4 linked regions of the Homo sapiens genome follow. The protein of the gene in region 4 interacts with the protein of the main gene of each other region in a biochemical or structural test. Each region holds a gene or a part of one and is shown on either strand. Other genes may lie near its edges.

The links.
Region 1: of the proteins of ABI1 (region 4) and CDK6, one has a biochemical effect on the other in vitro, tested with the Homo sapiens proteins (one large-scale study listed by IntAct).
Region 2: the proteins of ABI1 (region 4) and PRPF40A form a complex in vitro, tested with the Homo sapiens proteins (one study listed by BioGRID).
Region 3: the proteins of ABI1 (region 4) and EPS8 form a complex in vitro, tested with the Homo sapiens proteins (one study listed by BioGRID).

Annotation. Positions count from the first base shown.
Region 1 is NC_000007.14:92,721,574-92,725,073, reverse strand, and holds part of CDK6 (cyclin-dependent kinase 6), read left to right. Parts: intron 1-3,500. UniProt on the Homo sapiens protein: Serine/threonine-protein kinase involved in the control of the cell cycle and differentiation; promotes G1/S transition. Phosphorylates pRB/RB1 and NPM1.
Region 2 is NC_000002.12:152,654,962-152,658,461, forward strand, and holds part of PRPF40A (pre-mRNA-processing factor 40 homolog A), read right to left. Parts: intron 3,060-3,500; coding exon 2,928-3,059; intron 2,181-2,927; coding exon of another isoform or gene 2,163-2,180; exon of another isoform or gene 1,438-2,162; coding exon 1,345-1,437; 3' UTR 1-1,344.
Region 3 is NC_000012.12:15,622,512-15,625,388, reverse strand, and holds part of EPS8 (epidermal growth factor receptor kinase substrate 8), read left to right. Parts: intron 1-981; coding exon 982-1,162; intron 1,163-2,101; coding exon 2,102-2,231; intron 2,232-2,877. UniProt on the Homo sapiens protein: Signaling adapter that controls various cellular protrusions by regulating actin cytoskeleton dynamics and architecture. Depending on its association with other signal transducers, can regulate different processes.
Region 4 is NC_000010.11:26,749,528-26,752,958, forward strand, and holds part of ABI1 (abl interactor 1), read right to left. Parts: intron 2,257-3,431; coding exon 2,071-2,256; intron 1-2,070. UniProt on the Homo sapiens protein: May act in negative regulation of cell growth and transformation by interacting with nonreceptor tyrosine kinases ABL1 and/or ABL2. May play a role in regulation of EGF-induced Erk pathway activation. Involved in cytoskeletal reorganization and EGFR signaling.

The sequences.
Region 1 (3,500 bases), on a different chromosome or scaffold from region 4:
GAACCCAACGGCCCTGTTTTGGCAAAAAATAACAGTTATGATACCCTGTTTCTTTTTGCCATTCAGCTGCAAAACCATAATAGCTATTGACATTGGTTAGCTTCTATTTCTCCATATAGTTCATTATTTCTCAGATGGATTTTTGTGAAATTCTGCACCCCAAATACAAAAAGAGCAGCCTGGAAATAGGTATTAATACCCTTCTCTTTGAAAGACCTGTTTTGCATACAGTAAATTCATGCCTTACGTACAGTAAATTAAATAAATAATATATAGCAAATTAAGTCTTAAGAAAAAGAATTTTAAAAAAGAAAATATCTTTGTATATTCAAAGAAATAAAAAAAAATAATCCGTATTGTCCATCTTTAGCCTCAAAGTGGTTCTCACATCAGGGACAGCATGGCCCTGTTGTTAAGTAATGATTGGCAACATCTTTGGTCATTCTGCACAGCAAAAAATTGTTTCCCTAAATTTCAGTAATACTACAGCTGATAAGTAGAAATTCAAGAGAGGAGTTAGAAATTCTCTGAGACAGATAACTTGCCTTAGGAAAAAATCCAATTTATAAAAGTGTTCCCCACCCCCTGCCCCCAGTCAAAATAGGGGTGCTACCACCTAGACACGTAAGACCAGTTACTTTCCAAACATTATAGACTTTTCCTAGGGCATCAGAACTTTTGATGCAGAGGATTCCTTGGAAAATGTTGCCATTGTTAGAAGATAAATCCTACTCATTTCCTCTTTGCCCAGCATACACCATTGCTTTAGAGGAGAAATGGCACGAGTTGATGTTTAAAAGATAGGCCTCAGCTTTGAGCACGGTCAAGCAAGCCCTTGTATTCTTATGTAATCACACCAGAAAGGGCTGAGTCTGTGTATTTCCCCAGTGGGAAGGGTGAGGTAGGCTTTGAGTTTCCCTAGGAAGTTGTTGCGCATGTTGTTTTGGGGCCCTGGGGAGAAGCTTGAATAGGCTTTGTGATCCAGAGAGTCATCAGGGGAGTAGATGGAAGGAACTTGTCTCCTTGGGTACGTTAATTGAAGGAAGGATAAGCTGTAACTGAGATGGACGCTTTTATTTTAATCCCCCCAAATGGGCACTAATAACCATAAATAAAAACAGGAAACCCAGTTGGTTTGTGTTTGATTTTTTTTTTTTTTTTTTGCTTATTAAATTTGAGCTTGTGCGTAACATCAATTAACATTCCATTCTTGCTGAAAGTTGATATGTTCAAACAGGAAAATGTAGACAAATTATTTCATAGAGGAAAAGGAGAAAGGCAGTCATAAATACACAATTTTTCAGTATCTAGTTTATACTGCATGCTTTATATTTCCTATAGTGACATAAGTAAAACATGTTAGCAGCTGAGAAGGATTCTAAAACAAAAATCAGACTTTATTGGAAAGAGTGACGGTTGGAATTTAATGGTAATAATAAAGGGTATGTTCCTACAGGGTACTGCATTTTAAAATTTCCCCACTCTTTTGTATTTTTCTATTTAAAGGAAATACCCATTTAATATAGTAATGCGTCGATTTATATACACATGGTGACATAAAAACTTGGAATCATAGTTTTTTAGACTGAACTGGTATGTATTTTTAGTGTCTCTTGAAGAGAAAAAGACTACACTCCTCTTCCTGGAAATACACATTTTTTAGTGGGTTATGTCATACAGGAACTGAGAATCAACTTAATTTGTGGAATGTTAAAGGAATTACAAGTTAACTGATTCAAAACTGACATCTTAAAACTATGAGAAATGCTAGTATTTTACTTACCTTGCAAAGCCTGACTCCAGAGGTACCCTTTCTAGTATCCCCTTCAGAAATTAATTTCTTTTTCCTCTCTGTTTCCAGAGTAATATTTTGGGTTTTTTTGTTTGTTTTTGTTTTTGAGACAGAGTTTCACTCTGTTGCCCAGGCTGGAGGGCAGTGGCCCTATCTCAGCTCACTGCAACCTCTGCCCTCCGAGTTCAAGCGATTCTCGTGTCTCAGCCTCCCAAGTAGCTGGGATTACAGGCCACCCCAGGCTAATTTTTGTATTTTTAGTAGAGGCAGGGTTTTGCCATGTTGGCCAGGCTGGTTTTGAACTCCTGACCTCAAGTAATCCGTCCTCCTCAGCCTCCCAAAGTGCTGGGATTACAGGCATAAGCCACTGTGCCCAGCCTATAATACTGTTTTCTGTCTTGTTTTTAGTTATTTGGGAATTTTATTTATCAGGCCATAAGTTCCTCGAAGGCAGATGCTCATCTTATTCAGCCCTAACACACAGTGCCTTGTTTATTTTGATAGGCACTCAGGAAATATTTTTCAGTGAATAAATTGACAAATGCTGACTTGCAGATATAAGCAGTTGAGTCATAACAGGAATAGAGAAGGAGCTATGTTATACATTTAATGGTCTCATTTGATGTGTGTCAATATTCCTCATAGCTACCTGGTAATATTAAGCTGAAGGACTTACTCCATATACCTTAAAATGGCTGAGTCCATTTTGCACCCTAGTCCTGATTGATTTATTGGCAGCACATATCTGTGTTCAAAATCATGAAAGCTATTAATACATGCTGTAGCTCAATCTCAAGTTAGGAGTGAAAAGTTGACGCAAACCCAAGTTCACAGTCTGTGTATTGTTTTTATCATAATCCTTTCTACTGCCTCAGGAACAAATTACATATATGAATTGAACTTCCTGTCCTGAACAGAAAGCTGTAGAGATAGAGGAATGTAGCATTATTGTAATTTTACTTATTTGAAGACTTTCTTTAGCCCCTTGTGTTTTGTTATTAAAGCAAGTTTTAGAAGAGGAGTCATATTCTTCTAAGATAATTAACATCCTCTAAATGAAAGAATGGGTGAATTACTAGACAACTTTTACTATCTATGTTAATATATATATATTTACATAATAAATGATATTTCTATTTGAACAATTATAAAAGCTTGTATTATTAGCTTCTTTCTGAAAACTTCAAAATGTTCTTACATATAGAACTTTGAGGGAGCAGTTAACAGTATTTATTTTCATTTTAAGTTCATGATCACCTGACAGATCCTGAAGTACTACTTCTCCTTAATTTCTGAGCCAGTATGCTCTATGCCAGTATTCAAGACAAGGCATCTTTTGGATTAATTGAGAAATTAGTTGTTCTAGACAGGTAAGCTTTCCAGGCATCTTAAGGTATAACCCTTTATATTATGATCTTTATTATTTTATTTTTCTAGTGAAAACAAGTTTCTTGTTAAGAAACACGAGTTTCATAAGTAGAATATACTTCATATGTTGGCCTTTGGTAGAAATTAATTTAGGACAGTAGCCTGGACCATAGTTGTAGCTGTAGGTGGTATGCAACATCGGGCTGAATGACTTATCTTGTCCTCATCTGATAAATTGAGGACTAATCAAAGAGTTAAATGTCTTTTGCCTAACTTTGCCAGGCTGCCTCCAACATGACATTCTGGTGTCTTTATGGGGTATTGGGTTCTTGCTGCTCAA
Region 2 (3,500 bases), on a different chromosome or scaffold from region 4:
ACATTAAAAGAATAACACAGATAATACCGAAGAATAGGTGCTAAAATTTACTTATTTACTTAAAAAATCTCCTGCACTGAAGGAAAATAGTATAAATTACATTACCAACCTTCAAAAGTTAGCATGTAAAGAGTATTCTGTCTTCAAACCACAGCCTCTCTAAAATAGTCTGTAAAAAATTCATAGGTGAAAAACAAATCTAGGGACCTCAAATGCACTGATTTATAATATTCTTAAATATTAAAAAAGGAAAGTAAACTAGCGGTGTGGGTAAGATGAAGCAAAATTTCAGGGATTTAGTACCTTTAAAGTGATCATACAATTTCTTTAGAGCTGAGCAGTTTAAGTAGAAATAAATACTAGTACACACTAGAAGAGAAGGTTTAATAATTGATAAAAATGTACAAAAATATTCAAATCAGAAATGCTTTAGAATGTGTACCACGAAGTCAATACTTCTCAGTGAGTAGGGAAGGCAAAATACTTCCTCAATAGCAGGGAAAAAAAAGCAAGAGAAAGACTGAATTTAGAAAAAAAAGACAACTGTTAAAGAAAATGTTTAAGTCAACTTTTTTTTTTTTTTTAGACAAGGATATTGCAACTATCACTTAAAGTCTGGTGGCACATTCTTTAGTAGGTCCTTAAGGCAATATATTTAAATTAATTTACAATTTGATTTGATGTTAAAGTTTTTTTAAACATCACCTCAAAATAGATGCTCAAAATAATGCCCTCACAATAGCCTTTGTAAAATGTATTCAGATGTTTGATAAAAAATAATGGTGGCTTTATATTACAGTAGTGCTCATTAGCACCACTATAATTAAGGGTCTACCAAGTTTCCAGCAAAACCACCTGTTTCTTAGGAGTTTCACCATAAAAGATCACATTGGCTTTAACCAGTTGGGTAGCGCACAAAAAAGCAATTTTTATCAGTTGCTGGTGCTTTTTTTGTACTACTATATTATCAAAAAATTTTTCATTAGATCTTCAAAATCCAGCTTCTATAAAGTAAATCAAATCACCTCATGACTTAGATTTTAGAACAAAGTAGAGACATCTGCAGTTATCAGTAAATTGCCACCTTTAATCCATCCTACAGTGCCCTGTGAAAGGGTCACAGAAAGACAGTTATGACTGTATGAAAATATGATTCTTGATACAGAATCAAAAGTTACTTTCAATTTCCTTTGCTTTTATAAAGTCCACGATAACAATACTTAAATGCACTTTTTTTTTCCTGTGATATAATTAAAACCCAGTGTTATTTCAGTTGAACTTAAAATAGAGTCCCTGGTCTGAATCAGACTTTAAATCATACTGTAAACATATATTTGGTATAATTTATTGATCATCATCCAGTTGCTCCAAAAGGGTTCTTCTGCGCTTTTCCAATTCCCCTTCACTCAGTTCGCTGCCAGAAGTATCCCAATTACCCTGAAAAGACATTGATTACAATTATAGTTGACATCAGTACTCAGAGGTTTACGGGCTGAGCCTTTGAAAAAAGAATCCAATATCTATATAAACTCTCTTCCAAAGAAACACATTTCACAGGGTTTAAAGACTGTGTGAATATGAAGCAATATTTCCATTTAATGGAAGCCAGGTATTCATTTCCTAGATAATACATTCCTTGCTAATTTTTTTGTTGAGACAGAGTCTTGTTCTTGTCACCCAGGCTGGAGTGCAGTGGCACGATCTCGGCTCTCTGCAACCTCTGCCTCCTGGGTTCAAGCAATTCTCCTGCCTCAGCCTCCTGAGTAGCTGGGATTACAGGTGCCTGCCACCAAGCCCGGCTCATTTTTGTATTTTTAGTAGAGATGGGGTTTTGCCATGTTGGCCAGGCTGGTCTCGACTCCTGACCTCGTGATCTGCCCACCTCGGCCTCCCAAAGGGCTAGGATCACAGGTGTGAGCCACTGCACCTGGCCTATTCCTTGCTAATTTTGTAGCTTCCCCCTGGTTCCACAAGTATTATCACAGAAACAGAAGTAGTATGCTTTAAGCATATGGATTCCTGTGCCAAATAAATACACAAGACTAATGAGCAGGACAAGATTTAGGCTGAACAAACAAAAATAATACTGCACCGTAAGACACAACCTTTGAAAAGTGGATAGTTCCCATATCGTCCTCTTTCATTCACTCCAGGGATTTCATTTAACCCACCATAAGCTGCTAGAAAGTACAAAGGAAACATTCACTCTTCACTTACGATGTGACTCAGACTCACCTGTTTCAGCTCTAAAAAAAAACCCACCCTATACCAACGAATCAGAATATCCAGAGATCCCTAATAGGGTTTTACCTACATAGTTTATGCTCTCCAGTGATGATTCATAGGCATTTACCCTTGCTAAACCCACAGCATTTGCATTATTAGGCTCTGTCATTCATATATACATATATTTGAAAAGGACTAATTATGTAATCTGTTATTGAAATACTAACTTTGGCTTATATTCTCCTCTCCTATTTATTTGCCCTTCCTCCACCCCAAATCAGTATTTCTAAAAGTTACTGGAATTGCTACCTTTTGAAACAAAGGATTTAATAACAGTGACAACTGTAGACATCTGTAGAATCCCAGATTTAGTCTCTCACTTAAAAAAAAAATTTGAAAATTAGGTAAAAAATGTCCAGTGGCACTTCTTAGTGACCATATCCTTTCTTAGTGAGTTAATAAGGCTATAGTTATGAAATGCTATATTTAAAAAATATCAAATTTAGGAGAATAAAATCTAGGATCATGCATGACCAAAAACTATGATATTGTGTGAAATGTACTTAACTGAATTTTCACTGTTTTCTTCAATGGTAGCACACCTGGAAAAAAGCCTATTCTTTCAACACCATCATGGTTTAACCACAGAATACATTTTTGCATTTTGAAAATACAGGCATGAAACAATTCTAAATACTTACAGAATCCTTTCCAGTCTTTTTCTTAGGCGATTTGTGTTTTGATTCTGATCTTTGTCTAGTTCTGTCTTTTTCACTTTCCCGATCTTTTTCTTTTTTATCCTTCTCTCGCTCAGCATCGGATTCTGGAGAGTCCTGTATGAATAGAAAATAACAGGTTAGCATTTTGATGAAGATACCATTGTTATATAGGTAATATTTAAGAACATCTATGTGTAACAGGTTATGTGCTCTTAGAGAGATGAAATAAAATGTGAATTGTTAACCTCAAGGATTTAGTAAAATTTACCCAAGATTCATGGGGACAGCTTTCCCTTGGGAAGGATAATATTCTGAAGGATAAAATACCACTCATGAGACTTACTACCACATAATAGATGTGTAGTATCTATTATGTAAATACAGACAGATACTACATTTCTCACCAACTCAATATAATATTGGTTTATATATGTACATAGTATACTGCTGTTAGCTTTAACACATAAGGCAGACAGCTGTATTAATAAAATTATTTTCTTGAAATTGCTGAGTAGGAATTATTTAAAATTTAACGTTAGTGCTTAAATGGTTATT
Region 3 (2,877 bases), on a different chromosome or scaffold from region 4:
ATCATAAAATAATAGCATGTTTGCAGGCTGATGAACTGATTCAGTGAAGAAGGAAAATTAATAACAGGATAAATAAGGGAGAAATGACTCAGTATTTGAATAGGCAGAGAACTTGAGGCCTAGTGCATACATGGATAGTTAGCCTTGGGAGCAGGGAAACAGCTCTTATATAACATAATAGGAAGGCAGGCAGAACATATGGGGAAAGTGCTGTTAGGAAGAACTACTAGAGGAACTTACGGAGGTTTTCTTCTAACTATTTTATTCATAAATTAGGAAATGAGATCAGCTCAAGGTGAGGATTGGGGAATAGGGTTAGAAGTTTGTAGAGAGAAAGTAGAATATATTCAATACTTGTCTAAGACAGTGGGCAGTTACATGACCTTAGGCAGGACTTCTTGGCCTTTGAGGCTGGGTTATTCTCTGCTGTAGGAGAGGCTGACATTATAGAATGTTGTGTGCATCCCAGGCTTCTACCCACTGTGTGACAGCAGCAGCCTTTCCCCTTTTTCTCCCTCAATTGTGACGACCAAAAGTGTCTCCAGATATTCCCAAATGTCCTCTGGGGCCAAAACTGTCCCCAGTTGAGAGCCACCAGTCTAAGGAAATGTAGTATAATTGTCAGGAAGCATTAACAGCCAAGTTAAGGTTCATAATCATGAATTTAACATGAGATCATTCAGCATTGTTGTGTTATATTCAGCTGTGCAGGTGCAGGCACAGAATACGCAGAAAGTTAGGTTTAACCAGGATTGGGGTTTTGCCAAAGGAGTACAATGAAGAGACTAGAGAAGAGCCAGGGAGTTATTTTAATAATTGATCATGGCATTTATACCAGGCGAGGATAAAAGTGAGGAAAGATGGTAGGAACACTAGACTGTAGGTCCTACTGGGGTCAAGGATTATAGAGATTGGGGTTCTAGAGAGGGTGATGTAATATTAGGGATTTTCAAAAAGAACCTACTCCCTGTTGGTGTCTAGGAAGGAAATCTCAGATGGAGGAAGTGCAAGATGAACTCATCCACAGACTGACCATTGGTCGGAGTGCCGCTCAGAAGAAATTCCATGTGCCACGGCAGAACGTGCCAGTTATCAATATCACTTACGACTCCACACCAGAGGATGTGAAGACGTGGTTACAGTCAAAGGGATTCAACCCTGTGTGAGTCTCTCTGTGAATACTTTGCAATTCTGTGTGTACAACATGCATTGTTTTCAATTTGCTTAGTTAGATGTCACAGATAACTGTTATAAAACATAAGGGCACAGACTGCATACTTTGTGCCATACTCAAGAACTCACTATAGCTGTTCATAGCTGAAAAAGAACTAAAATAAGCATAAATAATTATTCTGATGCCACCCCATTTTCGAATTGGTAGTATCTGTTCATTATTAGTTCTTTAAGCAAACTATTGGCAGCTTTGAGGCCCAGTAGCTTCTTTTCTCCATCAGATTACTGTGATGTAACCTAGGTAGGACCATGGTCTTAGCTGAACTTCCTAGACCACATAGGACATAGAGCATAAGCTTTCCTCCTGCTGCAGGATATAGTGTCTCTGGCAAATAAAAAATAGTGTTACCTAGCATCAATTATAATCTTAATAGAACTTTTCCTTTAATAAACCCATAGTAAAGGTTCTATTTATCTATCTAAAAGTCTATAAACATTTCATATGTATTTGGCACAATGAACTATTAGAATAATACATATTCAAGGGACCTTGACATATTATAAACTCACCTACCCAGCATGATTGAAAAATGAGATACAATGGTTAGTCAATTGCCAGGTTACTAGAAAGTTATCTATTCCTTCTATAAAACACCAAATCCCAAGAATTGGTATTAAACAATGACCCTAAACCGAATTGGCTCATTTTTGATACTTTGTAATTAATAATCTGTATAGCCTCAGGGTCATCATCATGAAAGAAACTTGTCATTGCCCTAACTATAAAGACTGTAGTGGCATTTAATAAGGGTTCCAGGGTATGGAACGCTTAGAAAAGAGAAGTTACTAGCAGGAACAGATAATTTTCTCCTTTGTTTGTAGGCAATATTTTTAATGCTCAGTTTCTTTTTCCTTTTTTTTTTTTTAGGACTGTCAATAGTCTTGGAGTATTAAATGGTGCACAACTTTTCTCTCTCAATAAGGATGAACTGAGGACAGTCTGCCCTGAAGGGGCGAGAGTCTATAGCCAAATCACTGTACAAAAAGCTGCATTGGAGGTATGACTTGTCAACCTAAGGTGGTGTTTTTCTGCAAATTGAAAGCTCTGGAAACAACTATTTATGTCCATATTGGCCAATTTCCCTTTCTTAACAGAGCTGAATTAAATTTAACTCTGCTTTTGTAAATTTGTCACTGAGATCATCAATGACAGTTTCCAGAAGGTTAATTTGTTATAAATGCTCATATGATGTGAAGCTTGAGCACATACTTTTGGAAACTTGACAAAAAGCATAATGTTCTCATTTTATATGTATTGACTAATTCTATAGGAAATTTAATTTTGACATAACAATGGAAATTAGCTTCTGAGTGAGTAAGAGCCTTAAGAGGCCAGAATCCTTGCCTATTCTTAATATTTTTTTTTTTTTGGAGATTCTAATAACGTATAGGTTATAAGATTGTAAAACCCTGGCTGTGTGTGTTAGGTCTAGTAATACATCTCAATAATCGGGAAAGATACATTAGGTAGAGATCACTGAAAATAGAGAGCCTGGAAAAGTATTTAATCACAATGGTCTGTATGAAAGCAGGAGAGTCATGTTTTCTAGATTGCTTTATACTTAAGCTTCCAATATCCTATTTTAGACTTAAAATGTGCTATATACGGGTAGTAGTTTCCAACTGTTACATCTCACAGCTCTT
Region 4 (3,431 bases):
AATAAACTGTGTCATGTGCCTGCATTTTGATTGTGACCCATCACGTGAGGTCAGGTGTGGAATTTTCCACTTGCGGCATCATGTTGGAACTCATTTTGGATTTTGGAGCATTTTGAATTTGGGACTTTCAGATAGGGATGCTTAGCCTATATTCACTTCCTTTGCAAACTGCTATGGAAAGAGAAAGTAATCCAAAATGTATAAAATGGCCCATGGACAAATCCAAACCACGCAATTTTTGTAAATAAAGGTTTATTGCAATATGGCCACATCTACTTACTCATGTATTGTCTATGTCTGCTTTTACGCTACAATAGCAGGACTGAGTAGTTGTGACAGAGACTGTATAGCCAGCAAAGTTTAAAATATTTACTATCTGGCTTTATACCAAACAAAGTGTGCTCACCCCTAGTTCTTGGGAATATACTTTTTAATCCTCCTCTACTATCAAATATATTACCCAATATATCATTCCAAATTTGTCAACTTATATAAATATGGTCCCATTTTCACAGTTAATTGGCTTCACCAAGTAAGAAAATATGGGTAAAAACACAATTCAAGGTCACTCAAGTTTATCATCCTCGTAAGTAACAACAGCTCTCTATTTGAAGGTATATGGGAATCTCAAGTAGAATATTCAAGACTTTCTTAACAATATGTAAATTACTTACTGTTTAAAAATATAAGGCCACGCTCGGCTCATGCCGGTAATCCCAGCACAGGGAGGCTGAGATGGGCGGATCACTTGAGGTCAGGAGTTCAAGACCAGCCTGGCCAACATGGCAAAACCCCATCTCTACTAAAAATACAAAAGTTAGCTGGGCGTGGTGGCGGGCACCTGTAATCCCAGCTACTTAAGAGGCTGAGGCAGGAGAATTGCTGGAACCTGGGAGGCGGAAGTTGCAGTGAGCCGAGATTGCACCACTGCACTCCAGCCTGGGAGACAGAGCAAGACTCCATCTCAAAAAATAAAAAAATATAAAAGGAAAACAAATTTACTTTTGCCACATATCCAAAACTTGGGCAGGAAAGAATGCTGCTGGTCTCAAGAGCTACATCTACTAGCTTAAAGTCCGTTAACCCAGTAAAGTCAATAGAAGGAAATATATTTCAAAGGCAACCAAAAGTGTTCAACTAAATCACAAGCATTTTTCAGAACTCTATAGAAATACAGATTTTATTTTTAATTGATTCCCACTTCTGCAAAAAGAAATACAGATTTTAAAATAGCACAGAACTGGATGAAAAAATAAAAACTAGAAACAGGATTTGTTTCTTCCCCACCTATATTTCTTAATAGATAATTATAGTGAATATCGGGTACTATAGGTAAATTAGACTTTAGAGTAGTTCATAATTTCATGAAATACAATCCTGATAATTTCTCTTGTGTTTTATAAAATCACCTAATTGAAACCTTAATTGAGGCTTTTCTCATGATAGTACTAATATATTTTTAAAGACCGATGCTCCTCCACTTACATACAATGGGGTTATGTCCCAATAAACCCACTGTTTAGTGGAAAATATTGTAAATTGAAAGTACATTTTCAACTTGTATTTTTTTTACTTATAACAGGTTTATCCAGACAAAGCTCCATCATAAGTTGAGAAGCATACTGAATGCATATCATTTTTGTACCATCATAAAGTTGAAAAGATCCTAAAGTGAACCATCATAAATCAGGGACCGTCCATATTTAGATATGAAAGGTAATCAATAGAGCTTGACAGAACTTTTAAAATCTTTACTAATTACATATAACTCCATTTTTGTGCCTTAGCTGTTTCATCTATAAAATGCCGTCCAGCAAGTTAATCTTCAGCTGAACGCATATGTAGTTTGAAAGCAAATCTAACACTGCAACTTTTATTTAAAATACAAAGAAAGAATCCCCCTGTACACTGGGAATAATACAAAACTTAGGAAGTAAGGTTTAAGTAAATCATCTTGGTTGGTAAGGCAGTTTAAAAGGCTGAGAAACATTGGATTAGATGTTCTTTATAGTTCTAAATTTCTACAATTAGGTTATTTTCCTTCACATCAACTCAATGACTGTACCTTACCTTTCTCAATATAATTCTTGGGGGCCCAAGCAGGATCCCCATCTGCATATGGATCATTATACTGAACTACTGCAGCCTCCTCATCTTCATAATCCACTGGTGGTGGTGGTGGGGGAGGTGGAGAGTCATCAAACATGGGAATGTCATCTGGTGGAGGTGGTGGCGGTGGAGTTGGACTATCAGCAACTAAAAAGATTCATATGATTGATTTGAATCAAAAATAAGTCTAGATGGAAACTTATAAGTTAACAGAATTTAAGAAAGCTCTAACTTAAGTACAGCATGCACTATAATAAAACATGCAATGATTAGAAATAAAAGCTTGGTGTGTTAAAGTTTATGCTACTCAAGAATCATTTAAAAATAACAAAATGAGCTAAAAATAAGGGTATCTGGAAGTACTACAAATTAATGAATGCAGGGTGTTAGGAGACAATGTCTCTTTTTATAAGGATTATAGGAGTAGTTTCCTTATTCCAAGGTTCAGATCGGGACAAATGTTAACAATCTAAAATAAATCTATGTCACTTTTGTCATTTGGACTGCAGTAATGATATGAGTAACATTACGTTAATGGTTTGATCACTCTTCACTCTGCTCATTCATGCCCCTGATTTTGGCTTGAAACAGCTTTGGTTCCCTAAAAATTCAGTCTCCTGTGGACAGATTTTTGTTTCTTTGTTGATTATTGTTTGTTTTGATGAAGAGAAAAGTAAAGTTGGTAGTATTAGGTCTGCTTCTGTGTGCAGATTTTCTACTCTGTTATTTACATTTTACAAGTTGAAAAAATGGAAAAAGAATCCCCAACCAGTAGAAAATCTAATTGAGTATTTTTAAAAAGGTTTATATTCATAATTAGTTTTTTAATGTAGAAAGCAAGCTAAAATTTTGCATTATTGCTAGTAAAACATAAGCACGGGATGAGGGAAAGCCTAGATCCTAAAGATTCGATTTTCTAAGAATACATCAACAATTAAGATTTAAACATAAAGTGTTGAAGATGTAATTAAAAAAAACAAACAAAAAGGAACTTACAGTAAACAAAACAATAAAAATGACTCATACCTCAAACTCTAGATGGTCGTGGTCAGTATATATGTGTGTGCTTTACACAGTCAAAGGTGTAAACAGGGAAATGGGAAAATGTCAGGCTAGAGCTCTGTTCAATGAACTAGTATAATATCAGGTAAAAATGCTCCTAAAATTTAAAGAATTCAAAGCTGGAACCCAATTAATGCTTAACTTAAATTTCTGATCAATAAATTTCTTTAAAAGTTCAAAAGACATATGAAAATGTTTTCATACAAATTGATACAGGAATTACATAATTCCTGCAGGGGAGAAGTTCATAATACAAACAT